Homo sapiens: one gene and its partner. The protein of the gene in region 2 binds, or shares a complex with, the protein of the main gene of each other region. Each region holds a gene or a part of one and is shown on either strand. Other genes may lie near its edges. The genes, in order: PPP2CA and ARPP19. A codon is read from its position in the direction of its gene.

Region 1 (7,000 bases), on a different chromosome or scaffold from region 2:
ATTGACAAACTTCTATTTAAGAAATACCGACTACAACCAACAAATGTTTAATATGCAGCAAATGAAAAAATCATGTCTAGGATACTCAACCCAAGACATGAGCACATCATGTACAAATTCATTGTAAACTTACAAAATAAGTTTCAAAATTTCTGCAAGCCCTCACTATACAAACTCAGAATCCTCTTTATTTTTGAGACAGGGTCTGGCTCTGTCACCCAGACTGGAGTACAGTGGCACAATCTCAGCCCACTGCAACCTCCATCTCCTGGGCTCAGGCGATCCTCTCACCTCAGCCTCCCAAGTAGCTGGGACTATGGTATGCCACCAAGCCCGGCTGATTTTCATATTTTTTGTAGAGATGGGGTTTTGCCATGTTGGCCAGGCTGCTCTTCAACTCCTGACCTCAAGGGATCCACCCACCCTGGTCTCCCAAAGTGCTGGGATTACAGGCATGAGCCACTGTGCCAGGCCTGTTCTTAGGGAAAGCTTTTTAGGTTTATTAATGAAAATCCTAATGTTACTAATTGAGACATCAGTTAACACCCAACTTAGTGATTCCCATCCAACCATAATTATGTATTTTTCAAGAAAATACATAATTTACTAACACATTTTCCTTACCATAGCCATTTTCAAAAGAAGGTAGGGTACTAACACTTTCCAGTTTAGATGGCCAAAGCCCGGTCAGTCTCTATAATTAAACAATTATTTTAAACCCTAGTTATGCTAAAACCAAGCTATTCTTATCACAAGTCCCATTCTGCTAACCACAAAATTTAGAGAATTTGTACCTGGAAGATACCACCACGTGTCAATTACAATATACGTATTCCTTGGTCAATTCTGATATCACAGGACCGGAAAAAATAGCTGCTTGGTGTCTAGATTGTTTGGGTATTAAAACCACTGCACATGGATAAGCTATTTGTTCAGTCGGAGAGAAAGGGCATAGAGTGACAGAGCAACAAAAAGACACACAGAGAATGTATTTCTTGTGAAAGAAAAGAATGAAATGAAATGAAATGTAGAAACCCTAATGGCCTTTTGCTTTGGAAAATTAACTCCACAAGCCACTAAAAATACTATCAATTAGATCAGAAAAGACATTCGGTATGTATGTGTTCCTCAAGCATTTTAGAAAGGGGATATGCTATAACTTCCCTGTTGGTTCCAGATTCAACACAGCACAAAGCAAGAAAACTTTTATTTACTACACTCACAAGTATGATTAAGTGTTCCTGTTTACTCTGGTAGGTTAAAATATCAAATATTAGTTCCCACAGAAGAACTTTTTTTTAAACATCTAATCCTATTCGAAGGATAAAAGGGGAAAAACTCATTAAATGTTGAACACTGCCACTTTAAGTACCATTTTTGTCTTCGGGTGAATGTACATAAGACTAAATCATGATCCAACAATAGTTTTCTATTTGGTTTCACTAGTATCACTCAAAGAACTTGACACAGGCTAATGCTTTAACACTTTCTTATCTGAGACAAATTTAACTCTAAGAACATATGACTCAACAATGTACAAAGATTTAAGAATTTGCCAATCTGTCAATCATTTTAAAGAGTCCATATAATATACACATAGCAATATAATATTCATAACCAGAAACTGCACTAAGTAAACACATCATTTAGTTTAAGCTCTACCTGAAAACATGCTGTTTTATTAAAACAAAACCCAAAGACTTAAATCTCAAGTTATATGGTTTTACAATTAAGTCTTACTGAAGCAGCACAGATTTCCTTTCTTACAAACAAGTTAATATGCAGGAAGAACCCACAAAGTGCACACCAACAATGTGACAAATTGTAATATGTGAAATACAAATAAATCCTGAAGTTAATCTGAAGAATGTCAAGGAGTTACCAGAGAGGTTATGTAGTGCCCTTGATTTTTATTTTACCTACAAGTCTACAAATTCTAAAATTTACTCAATTGATTTAACTTTTTTAATAAACAGCACCAGTCTTGCCCATTGATACAATTAAAATTTGACCTTCTCAGTTCTTAGTTCACAAGTTTATTATGAAAAACACTGCAGTGCTCTTGTGCAGTCACATCGTCTTACAGGAAGGGGAAAAAACAGTTCTGTTCAAAACAACTCACCAGGTTCTGACAATAACAAAGAACAACATGGGGCTGAGATTTGAGTAGGGAATAAACTGAGTGCAGACAAATCATATAATTAAATTAAACGGTATCCCTGAAAATAAAAAGAACAATTTCAAAACTCACAAGTAGAAGGGAGGCCTTGGTAATTATTTTTAAAAATGTTCATTAAGCTCCAATGATTGTTTGCTGCTATCCTTATCTACAGTCATGCTGAGTAAAGCTATAGCTAAATGGAAGTTAAATTGTATTCACGAGGTGTTAATGTTTACATCTTATTATCTGCAGTCTCTCAGAGAAAGCAAAAGTAACTACAAATAGCGCTATGCCAGAAACTGGTTTCTTGACCAACAATGTCGCTTCAGCATGCAATGAACTGGTTCATTCTAAAGTGGTCACGGCTGTTGATGACAAGAGGCTTTGTATTTTTATATGGCACATCTTTTGGTCCATGTGAAAACAAGTTTTTTGAATGTTAACTATTTTCTGACACTTTGGAGTTACTGTTGCTCTTCCCATTTCCATTAGGTCGATATATGGTTCATGGCAATACTGTACAAGTTTAAAATTTCATTACAGGAAGTAGTCTGGGGTACGACGAGTAACATGTGGCTCGCCTCTACGAGGTGCTGGGTCAAACTGCAAGCTGAAAAACAAGACCGATTCATGGTTTATGTTCCACGACCTCCATGTAGTGACAATCAAGATCAAGAACATGAGTCTTCCAAACTTTACACTTCCTATTCAATTTTGGCTTGTCTTAATGTAACAGAACCTTAATGATAATGGTCTGTTAACTGTACTCCCCTTGAAAGAGTCAAGGCAACTTCAGCCACAGAGACTATGCTTTTATAAAAACATGGTTTTTACCTTGACTGAAATTTCAAACAAAACAAAACAAAACATGGTTGGCCGGGCGCAGTGGCTCACGCCTGTAATCCCAGCACTTTGGGAGGCTGAGGCGGGCGGATCACGAGGTCAGGAGATCAAGACCATCCTGGCTACCACGGTGAAACCCCATATCTACTAAAAAAATACAAAAAAATTAGCCGGGCGTGGTGGCAGACGCCTGTAATCCCAGCTACTCGGGAGGCTGAGGCAGGAGAATGGTGTGAACCCGGGAGGCAGAGCTTGCAGTCAGCCAAGATCGCACCACTGCACTCCAGCCTGGGTGACAGAGTGAGACTCCGTCTCAAAAAACAAACAAACAACAAAAAAACACAAAACATGGTTTTAAAAGTGAAAAACCTAGTAATTCATACGAAGATCTATATATAATAAGTTCCTGTTGGTGTGTTTCAATGTAGATCCATTAAAAAAAAAACAAAACTTAAAAATAAAAGTTGGAATCTGACATAGCATAATCCCTTAATAAACACTTTTTTGAGACGAAGTCTCGCTCTGTTGCCCAGGCTGGAACGCAGTGGCGCGATCTTGGCTCACTGCAACCTCTGCCTCCCGGATTCATGCCATTCTCCTGCCTCAGCCTCCTGAGTAGCTGGGATTACAGGCAGGCGCCACCATGCTGGGCTAATTTTTGTATTTTTAGTAGAGAAGGGGTTTCACCATGTTGGTCAGGCTTGTCTCGAACTCCTGATCTCAGGTGATCCACCCGAGCCTTCCAAAGTACTGGGATTACAGGCATGAGCCACCGCGCCTGGCCCCCTTAAACTCTTAAACCTCACATTTAAACTATGTATTCAGGCTGGGCACTGTATCTTATACTTGTAACCCCAACACTCTAGGAGGCCAAGGTGAAAGGATCACTTCAGCCTAGGAGTTCGAGACAAGACTGGGCAATATAGTGACACCCTCTCTCTCAAAATAAATAAACCAAAACCCTACATATTCAGTAATGCAAGAAAATGTTCAGGTAGAATTACTTACAAAGAGTATTTTAGAGTATCGTCAAGTTCCATGATTGCAGCTTGGTTACCACAACGATAACAATAGTTTGGAGCACTGAAAATCGTTACTACATTCCGGTCATGGCACCAGTTATATCCCTGCAAGGAAAAGGAGACAAAAATCTTACTTTACTCCCTCAATTCAACTAAATGTTACTTCACTCAAGAGAGAAAAAAATCTCTACTCATTCCCACCCCTGCCAAAGGGGCTTAAGAAATGTTAATGCTTTTTTTCTGGATGACTTAATAATCTCCTGTACTTTATACAACCTGTAAGGTACACATGTATTTATTTTCCCCCTAATTACAAAACTTGTTTTTTTTTTAGTACTTTAAAAAAAAAAAGGCTTTAACAAACAGCAGCAACCACCAAAGAATGAAATACTTCTCATGTATCTGCCTTGCTGTAAATGACAATGTCTCATTAGCCTCTTCTCTTGCAGTGGCCTTAAAACATGATTTAAGAATAAGTATTTAAGTGGCCATTCCCTAGAGAAGTAGATACTTAATCCTGGAGACCAGAACCTTACCAATTTTGTCAGTCACAGGTAAAGGCCTGTTAAGTTGGTCACTGCCCAGGAACAAATGCAATATGCCTCTAGGATCTCCAGCCTCATTTCCTCAAAGTCCATCCACCTGAATGCATGAGCTACTTTTGTTACTTTTTGTTTAGTATTGTTCACAATTTCTTTACCTTTAGCAAAGTCAGATTTTATTGATAACCACAGAGTTGTACTAGTATTAATCTAATTAGGACCTTATTTTAAAAATATTCTAATCAGTGTGCCATGTCAAGAACCTTTGCCTCTTTCCCTTCTTTCAAATCACCTGTAATCCTAGCATCCAAAGGACCACTTAAAACATTTTCGTGTATTTCTTTCCAGTCTCTCCTACATACATACATTAAATATACGAAATAACATTGGGATCATAAAATATCATACATGCACACCAACTCCCTATATCTTACTTTCCCACTCTTAAATCTCAAGTACTTCCTAGTCATTCAGATTTCTCTGAAAACATGTTAATGGATTCATTGTAATCAAAAGCTTGAGCTTTTAATTCTAGTAGTGTGCATCTACTGAAAAGGCTCAGGCTATAATGATAAACTCATCAGAAGGAATAGATGGAATTTCTCACAAATGTCATTAATTTAAAACTCCCTAATATCTTCTTTCCTTAAGTTTACTAAAAAAACAAGTCATATTTCAGAGAACACAGCATACCTCCATCACTAGCTGGTGAGCTCTAGACACCAACGTGAGGCCATTGGCATGATTAAATGTCTCAGAAATATCTTGCCCAAAGGTGTAACCAGCTCCTCGAGGAGATATACCCCAACCACCACGGTCATCTGGATCTGACCACAGCAAGTCACACATTGGACCCTAAAAAATAACTTCAAGTTATAAAATGCCTTTTACAAACATGGTTAACACATTATTTGAGTAATTCATCAGAAGCAGCACCCTAAGCCACCCTTTTTGAGTGATGTTTGTGGACAATGCTAATAGACTGTGCAGTTGAAGTCAAACATCTGCATCAAATAAGATGTATTTTCCAGCAGACTTTATGAGACACAGCTGACATCCATGGGACCCAGCAGCAACATGCCCTAATTAATCTGCCTATATTATGCAAATTTCAGAGTCTAAGACAGACAACCCAGGTCCTAATAAGCCCAGCTTCACAGCTGTTGTGATCTTGGCAGGTTTCTTAATGTCAGCTTCTTTTGAACAACAGGGCAGACAAGAGTGCTCACACCTCAAGTTGTTTTTGAGAATTATATGAGAGAATACATCTAATGAACTTACAATTAAACTTCTCCACTCCCTAATAAGTTTTCTGAAAGAATTTTATCAAATAAAAGTCATACCTCATGGGGAACTTCTTGTAGGCGATCAAGTGCTCTGATATGATCCAGTGTATCTATAGATGGCGAGAGACCACCATGTAGACAGAAGATCTGAAAAGAGTGGTTTAAAAGGTTAACCTCACCTAAAAAATTTGTAAACATTCTTGGCTGGGCACAGTGGCTCATGCCTGTAACCCCAGCACTTTGGGAAGCTGAGGCAGGAGGGCTGCTTGAGGCCAGGAGTTTGAGACCAACCTGAGCAACACAGCAAGACCCTGTGTCTCTACAAAAATTTTAAAAAATGAGCTGGGCACCCCCATCACTTGGCCCCTCTGGTGTTTCTGTGCTCTGCCTGAATGAGACTTGACTTTGCAGGGTTCATCTTTGCTCCAGCCCACTCTGAACTATTGAGTACACTCCTGTTCTTCCTAATAGACCATCGCTGTCACAACCAGACTCCACTTCAAACAGCTCCTTTGAGAAAACTTCTTGGATATCACTCCTGCCCTTTGCCAGAGACTAGTATCTTCATACTCATAAAATTTTATTGTAAGTTCTTTTGTGTGCACATCTACCTAGGCCAATAATTAGCTCCTTACATCTCCCAGACTTGTCCAAAAACAGTCTGAGAGGGTAAATGGGCTACATCACCCACCCCTGTGATCCCACCATACAGTTCAGTGCCTGATATAAAGAATAATGCACTTAAAAAAGTTGGACACATTTGTCAAATTAAATTTTTTTTAAGTTTGAATGAATGCTATCAATATCTATTAAAAAATATCCCCAAAGGGGTGTTAAGAGTGGAAAGAGTCATAAGCACCTGAACACTAAAGAAAGCAGATTCTCTGAAATAATCAGCAATGAGTTTTAGATCCACATACCTGCCCATCCACCAAGGCAGTGAGAGGAAGATAGTCAAAAAGATCTGTAAAATATTTCCAAACATTTGCATTTCCATATTTTCTTAAACATTCATCATAGAAACCATAAACTTGTGTGATCTGTCTGCTCTCATGATTCCCTCGAAGAATGGTGATGCGTTCACGGTAACGAACCTAAAACAATAAAATGCAAAACATAAACAACTAGCTCTTTCAAAAACCAATG
Region 2 (7,533 bases):
ACTGAAAGAAAAAAAAACTTCATAAAATTTTGGCATATATTTCACTCAAAATTATATTCATACATTAAAAAAAAAAAAAAAAGATGAAGATCCTGTTTCCCTTCCCTTTGTACCCACGGGGGGGAAAAAATTACAGGTCAGGCCATATTGCCCAAACTGGTCTTGAACTCCTGGCCTCAAAGCTATCCTCTCACCTCAGCCTCCCAATGTGCTGGGATTATAGGCATGCACCACCACATCCAGCTCTCATACATGTTTTATAATCAGCTTCATTCACTTTATATATTATCAGTATTTCATCCTGAACTGCTTCTTCATTTGTTGTTAGATCTTCTCATTTTCAGTCTCGGAGAATTTTGAGAAAAAAGCTGCTTCTGTCAAATACTGTTTTCTGTGGAGCCTCTTTTTATGTTGCAGATTCATCCATTTATGTTATCTCTTTACAGTGGCCACGTCATTCACTCACTTGACATGCACGACATTCAATTATGTGCACTTAGCCAGAAATAGAGAATTTAAATAGTGGTGAGTCTACCAGTCATTCCATTCAAGAAGGGTATGCTCCAGAGAGGTAAGTGTGAGGTATGTGATGCAAACCTGCCATTCCCACGTTAGTCTCTCGTTGGGTATCTTGCAGAGCATAAGTACATCAACATGCTGTTTATCATTGCAGTGTTTAAAATCTCAGCCCGTACAATACAAGCCTATTACCTTAGCTAGCACTCAACTTAAGAATCACCCTAGCCATCTAGCCATCTGTTCAAACGCTGGACATAAAAGTGACTACCTGCTCTACTGAGAATTGATGGGGCAGTCTCCAATATGATTATGCCTTCTCTAGAATTTTGTCAAGGGTGATTTTAGCTATATGTGATTTTTTTCCCTTACTAACATTAGAACCTAACCCCATGTAAGATATGACTATACCATATTCATCACCAAAGCCAGAGAAATAAACATAAATGTAAGATTACCAAGTTTAATGTAGGAAGGCGGGCTGAGTCACTGCACAGCTTCGATGTGGCTCAGCCCTCACTGCAGATATCTACTGCAGCCCAAGGGTGTTCTCAGTGCTGCAGTTTAGAAGTGGATGTGGGAGGAGAGGCCTACTCTTGGGTTTCCCTGCACAGCTGGCTTCAAATAATTTTGGCTGAAAAGGATCCCAAGCTAATTGTCACCCTTTAGTCCCTGCACCTTCAAATTAAGGGTGTTACTGGAGTCCTACATTTCCAATAAAAATTCAGCTTTCTTGAGCCTAGGAAGTGAGAGCTCTCCACTTCTTCCTTTGATTTGAAATAGTTCTCCAAGTCTAATAGTTCCCCGAATTCCTTAAAAATTTTTAAAGGAAAATTGTATGTAGGTAGCAACTTACTCTGGTTTCCAGTGTTTCTGCAGGTTTCCTCCATTTGATATATAAAGGAAAATACCTTGTACACAATCCGGGCATTCCCTTATTTTCTTTTTCTTTTTTTTTTGCCATGTTGGCCAGGCTGGTCTCGAACTCCTGACCCCAGGTCATCTGCCCGCCTCGGCCTCCCAAAGTGCTGGATCACAGGCATGAGCCACTGGGCCCAGCCGCATTCCCTTGTTTTCTTAATAAGGAATACATTGATATATCATATTAAGCATGCTTAATTAAATTAAAAAATGTTTGGGTAAAACAGCATCTATGAGCTGCAAATGTCATTTATATTTAGAATGAATTTATAACATGTCTTAGAAAAAAACAAGCCGATTCTTGAACTTTCTTGCCAAATACATAGCACAACTGAAAGCCCCTGCTAGCTGCAACTTCCTAACTGGATTCAGAATTTCAGTTGGATTTAACAGGGGGGAAAAGATGACCTAATCTAGATTTTTAAATGTGGTAAACACCATTAAGACTTCCACAAAAGTTTTCATGAATCCTACAGAAACATTCTACAGAGCTAGGCAGTTCTAGGACCTTAATGATAAGTTAGTTCAAGTGCTTGGACATGCATTAATATTCTGACAGTTACTGAGTTCTTATTAGGTTCTGTCAACGGCATCTATGCCAGATTAAAAGGCATGAGAGAAAGAATCCATTCTGCTCCTGGTGATGCCACCACCAACAGCAGACAGCAGTCGCCCCTGTGAGCTCCTACAGAGGGACATATGGCAGATAAACAGGGGCTCTAGTAGCAGCTACACGACAAGGGAGGCAGACGATGGTGGACTCTGAACAGTACTCATCCTTGCAGGGTCAAAGGCTTTCTGTAATCCTTACCTCTGGAAACACCATCTTCCTCCCTTTTGTTCCTCTATTCCTTCTAATAATTTGTAACCTTATTCCCTAAAAATCATATTCCTTCCTTTTTAAAAACATGCAAAGTGGTTTCTGCTCCTGTCTCCCAACAGGACACTGATAAAAGCAGGTAAAATAAGCGATTTATCCACAGTCATGTTCAAAAATGCAAAATAGAACACAATTTGATGTGACTCCACGTTTCTGGACCTCAAGGGAATTCCTAAACATTTACTTAAGCTAGAATGAAAACAAAGGGGAGATAAGCCAATAGTTATTTATTTGTTTATTTTTTCCAAAAAGAATCACAGAAAGATTAAATCATAAACTAATCAAGCTTTGGGTTAAATAGGTTAGGATGTAAGGGATAAAGGACAGGAATGACTATTACTAAACAAAGAAAATTGGTATATACATACACATATACTGATAACAAGTCAATATTGTAATTTTAATATCTTTATCATGTGGAGTTAAAAAAGAAAAGAATACTATAACAGTACCATATTTTTAGTTTAAGTGTTCTATGGTCCTGTATAATTTAGAAAAGGGTTTATAATCTTAATTTTTACATCTTGTTTAGTTAAGAATGCATGAAAAATTTCAAGGGGAACCAATTAAATAGCAGAAATAAAAAGGAGTGTTGGGGAGAGCAAGAAAGGAAGAAAAATAAAAAAAATTTTAAATACCAAAAAGAAACCAAACATAAGGAGAAACAAATCCCAATATGTTAATAACCACAATAACCATACTGAAGCAACAGACTGTCCATTTAAATCCAGTGGCTGGATTAAGGAAAAAAAAAAAACCTAGCCACTTGTGGAGTACACATTTAAAAAAATCTAAAAACAAGGACATAGGTTGAAAGTAAAAAGACTGAGGGTGGGTGGTGGTGGTAACATACCAGGCAAAAAATCCTTACCAAAACAGAGCTAGTGCAGTGCACCTACTTTTTTTTTTTTTTTTTTTTTTATTAAGATACATGGTCTTCCTATGTTGCCCAGGCTGGTCTAGAACTCCTGGCCTCAAGCAATCCTCCTGCCTTGGCCTCCCAAAGTGCTGGGACTGCAGGCGTGAGCCACTGTGCCACTAATAAAATGGCATGAAAATATACAAAGCAAAAACTGACAGAACTATAGGGAGCAACTGACAAGTCCACTACTATGGAATTCAACACAGCTTCCTCAATTATTGATAGCTATAAAAGATAAAGTAGTTAAGATACTTGATTTTAATTTTACATCTAACAATTAGGGAATGCATAGTCTTCCACAGCACAAATGGAAAAACTGACTAATACTAGGCCATAAAGCAAATCTTAACTATTTTCTTCCAGACCACCATCTATGACTGCAATTCATTAAAGTCAGTAACAACAAAAAAATTATAAATCTCTAATATTTAGAAATTAAAAACATACTTCTAAATAATTCCTGGTTAAAAAAGAAAGCACGAGTATTTAAAAAAAATAGGAGTTCTAGACCTACCCGGGCAACACAGTAAGACCTTGGCCTTTACAAAAAAAATTTAAAAATTAGATAGGTGTCGTGGTAGATGCTTATATGCCTATAGTCCTGGCTGCTTGGGAGGCTGAGGTGGGAGGGTCACTTAAGCCTACCCTGGGAGACAGAGTGAGACCCTGTTTCTTTAAAAACAAACAAACAAAACCCTACACATACCAAAACTTGTCAGGTATAGCAAGTATCTCTCAAGGGCTTATATCAGAGAAGAAAGCTAAATCTCAATGAGCGATGCATCCAATTTAAGAAGTTAGACAAAGAAAGGAGCCCAAAGAAAATGGAGAAATAAAAAGCAGAAATTAATGAAAAAGATACAATAGAAAGGGCCAACAAAGGGGGTGGATATGGCAAGCTTAAGAAGTTTTTTTTTTTTTTTTTTTTGAGACAGAGTCTCACTCTGTCGCCCAGGCTGGAGTGTGGTGGCACGATCTCGGCTCACTGCAACCTCCACCCCTCCCCACGCTGGGTTCAAGTGATTCTCCTGCCTCAGCCTCCCGAGTAGCTGGGATTACAGGTGCCCATCACCGCACCTGGCTGATTTTTGTATTTTTAGTACAGACAGGGTTTCACCATCTTGCCCACGCTGGTCTTGAACTCCTGACCTCGTGATCCATCTGCCTCTGCCTCCCAAAGTGCTGGGATTACAGGTGTGAGCCACCGTGAAGAAGTATTTTTTATGATTCAAATCTGGTTTTGAAGTTTCATTCTCCAAGAAGCCTTTGTGTTACACAGCAATTTTACTACATTTTAAAAATAGATGCTGTAATGTAAATGGATTTACTTAGGTAAGTAGCTTCTAAATTGATAATAGGGTCCGCAGAAGGCAGAATTCTGAACTTTTGGCTATTGGCTACAAGCTGGGAAAGGAACCCCAGGATATGGTAACACAGATACATGTTTACACACAGATACATGTATACGATGTATGTATCCAAAAAACAAAAACAAAAATCTTAAGAACAGTATTTTTAATAATAGTTATTGTCTCGGCATGTGCATTTTTGTGAATTGTACCACTGAAATACATCAGAAATCCTTTCTGTGAATAGGTGGGGTATAAGTTATAAATATATACACGTAAAAAGGACACTCAAATAACTAAGGATTATTTTGTAGTCTATTATACACTGAGCAGAATTATGTCTCAATGACTGATACCACTTTTCAGCCTTCGGCAGAGGAGGGTTATACAGCAACGTCAGCAATAAAAATCTGACCACTCTAAGCAAATTCTCCTCTATCTGCTCAGCAACATGTTGACTGATGCACTGATTGACGAATAACTAGAAAGGATTAATGAAAGCCAACAAATCCTTTGGGATACTGCCAGGAAGGTACCAATACTGTATCAAGCTCTATGGAAAATTACTGTTGTCATTCTATTAAGTCTTTGTTTGCCTAGTGCCTAGCATTTAATGAATGTTCAATAAAAGTTCATTCATCTGAATGAAAAAATACAATGTACTTGTTTCCATAAAGCTATAAAGCTAAGAAACTTTCTTCACACTTGAGGATTTCACCATCAGCTCATCTTTAATATTTTATGTTATAGTAAACACAGCTTCTGGATTAGAAGTTAAGTATTCAAGTCTTGCACAAACAAAAGAAGCAACCCTAACAAACTGTTGTATCGCAAACTGCTAAGACGGCTAAGAGAAACATTTAAAAACTTTTCTGAGGTTTACCTCTAGGCTGTTAGGAATCGATGGTTGCAGAGACCAAGGGAGCATGTTGTGTTCACTCTGAATAGAAATAGAAAACATGGATGAGGCGGTTGCTCACACCTGCAGTCCCAGCTACTTGGAGGCTGAGGTGGGAGGCTAGGTGAACCCAGGAGTTCAAGGCGGCAATATGCTATCATTGTGCCATTGCACCCCAGCCTGGGCGACAGAGTAAGACCCTGTCTCAAACATAACAAAAACATTCTTCAGCCTTTAGGTAACCAAAAGTAGTTGTCAAAAGAGCTCCTGAAAATACCAATATGAACTCCTATTTTTAAAATACTGGAAGCATGGGAAAACAATTTATATCTCTTTATGGTTGATATATTAAAATAATGCAGATAAAGGTTCTTTTCCTCTTCTACCACTCATAAAGGCACCAACCTGTATCTCTTACCTGACAAATAATTTCATTGACAGCTTTCCTGTGGGTATCCTTTCCAAGACATATTAGTTTGGTGAGTCTTATAACCTCTAGAAAACTTGCTATTGAGATCTTAAAAAAAAAATTAAGGCCACAACACAAACGAAAAAATATATACACACATCACTGTAGTTTCGTTCAAGAGTTCTTAAGTGGGTCTAAGCTAAGGTTTTCATCTTACCATGGTCTATTCTTCTCTGTGGTACTAGCATTGTCATTTGTTTTGAAATAGTACTTTGGCAAAGGTTTTAACAGAAAAGTTCTGAGGAAAATCCATTCAACCATTTTGTAAATAATGTCAAGCACAATGTTGAGTGCTGTGAGAGAACAGATATATAAACCAGGGTCCCTGAGCATAAGCTGCTCACAGTGCAATTAAAATTACCATCTTTTTTTTTTTTTTTTTTGAGACAGGGTCTCCCTCAGTCACCCAGTGGCGCCATCAAAGCTCACTGTGGTGCCATCAAAGGTCCCTGTGGTTTTGACCTCCTGGAGGTCAAGTGATCCTCCCCTCAGCCTCTGGAGTAGGTGGGACTACAGGTGTAGATTTATTATTTTAGAGACGGGGTTTTGCTATGTTGCCCAGGCCGGTCTCAAACTCCTGGCCTCAAGCGATCTTCCCACCTTGGCTTCCCAAAGTGCTGGGATTACAGGCAAGAGCCACCCTGTAGGGCCAGAATTATCTGTTTTAAGTTTCCACTTGCCTCTTCTCCCCTCCAGGACTAGTACACATGCCTTAGCTTACTGCTGATAGATTCATGAGATCTGTACTCAAAACTTTTAAATGTTTTGTTTTCACTTCAGTGGTTATCTCAAAGGCAAATATAAGCATATTCTGGGGAATCTGAATCACCACGTTGCATCTAAGTAGTGCTATGTGGGTTCTGCATCTGAGCTTTCTTTGACAAAGACTCAGCAGGTTACTCCAACTGTCCAAGAAAATGAGAAAAGAATGGAGCTGAACTTAAAATGTGATTGTATCTATGACTCTGGAAACTTAGTGACCTCATAGTTTACTCTTAAAAGGGGAACTGAGCCACCACATGGCCTAGGGGAGTGTTTACTTGACAAACTCAAAAACTCCCTCAACTTTTAACAATTGCTGCCATATTCCAAATACATTGGAAATTTAGTTTCAGCAAAATACCAAGCACACAATCAAAAATTTAGACTGGCTTTGTTGTATTTAATCTGTTTTAGTTTAAATTTTATTTTATTTTTTTGAGATGCAGTCTCACTCTGTTGCCCAGGCTAGAGTGCAGTGGCACGATCTCGGCTAACTGCACCCTCCGCCTCCCAGGTTCAAGCAATTCTCCTGCCTCAGCCTCCTGAGTAGCTGGAACTACAGGTGCGTGCCACCACACCCGGATAATTTTTGTATTTTTTAGTAGAGAGGGGGTTTCCCCATATTGGCCAGGCTGGTATCGAACTCCTGACCTCATGATCCGCCAGCCTCGGCCTCCCAAAGCGCTGGGATTACAGGTGTGAGCCACCGTGCCCGGCCAAATTTTATTTTATTTATTTTCTGACACAGAATCTTGTTCTGTTGCCCAGGCAGGAGTACAGTGGTATGATCTCAGCTCACTGCAACCTCTGCCTCCT

What was found.
Region 1: the proteins of ARPP19 (region 2) and PPP2CA are in contact, whole or in part, in a cryo-EM structure (PDB 8TTB), measured with the Homo sapiens proteins. Residues at the interface, in NP_001293124.1 of Homo sapiens: Phe60, Asp61, Ser62, Gly63, Asp64, Tyr65, Asn66, Met67, Lys69, Ala70, Lys73, Ile92, Pro93, Thr94, Pro95, Leu98, Arg101; in NP_002706.1 of Homo sapiens: Arg89, His118 (codon at 6,909), Gln122 (codon at 6,897), Gln125 (codon at 6,888), Val126 (codon at 6,885), Tyr127 (codon at 6,882), Tyr130 (codon at 6,873), Asp204 (codon at 5,390), Asp205 (codon at 5,387), Pro213 (codon at 5,363), Arg214 (codon at 5,360), Gly215 (codon at 5,357), His241 (codon at 5,279), Gln242 (codon at 5,276), Leu243 (codon at 5,273), Met245 (codon at 5,267), Tyr265 (codon at 4,077), Arg268 (codon at 4,068), Cys269 (codon at 4,065).

The regions. Positions count from the first base shown.
Region 1 is NC_000005.10:134,195,074-134,202,073, forward strand, and holds part of PPP2CA (serine/threonine-protein phosphatase 2A catalytic subunit alpha isoform), read right to left. Parts: intron 6,949-7,000; coding exon 6,775-6,948; intron 6,002-6,774; coding exon 5,912-6,001; intron 5,435-5,911; exon of another isoform or gene 5,424-5,434; coding exon 5,262-5,423; intron 4,132-5,261; coding exon 4,013-4,131; intron 2,772-4,012; coding exon 2,699-2,771; 3' UTR 1-2,698. UniProt on the Homo sapiens protein: Catalytic subunit of protein phosphatase 2A (PP2A), a serine/threonine phosphatase involved in the regulation of a wide variety of enzymes, signal transduction pathways, and cellular events.
Region 2 is NC_000015.10:52,558,719-52,566,251, forward strand, and holds part of ARPP19 (cAMP-regulated phosphoprotein 19), read right to left. Parts: intron 5,529-7,533; coding exon of another isoform or gene 5,472-5,528; intron 1-5,471. UniProt on the Homo sapiens protein: Protein phosphatase inhibitor that specifically inhibits protein phosphatase 2A (PP2A) during mitosis. Inhibition of PP2A is enhanced when ARPP19 is phosphorylated.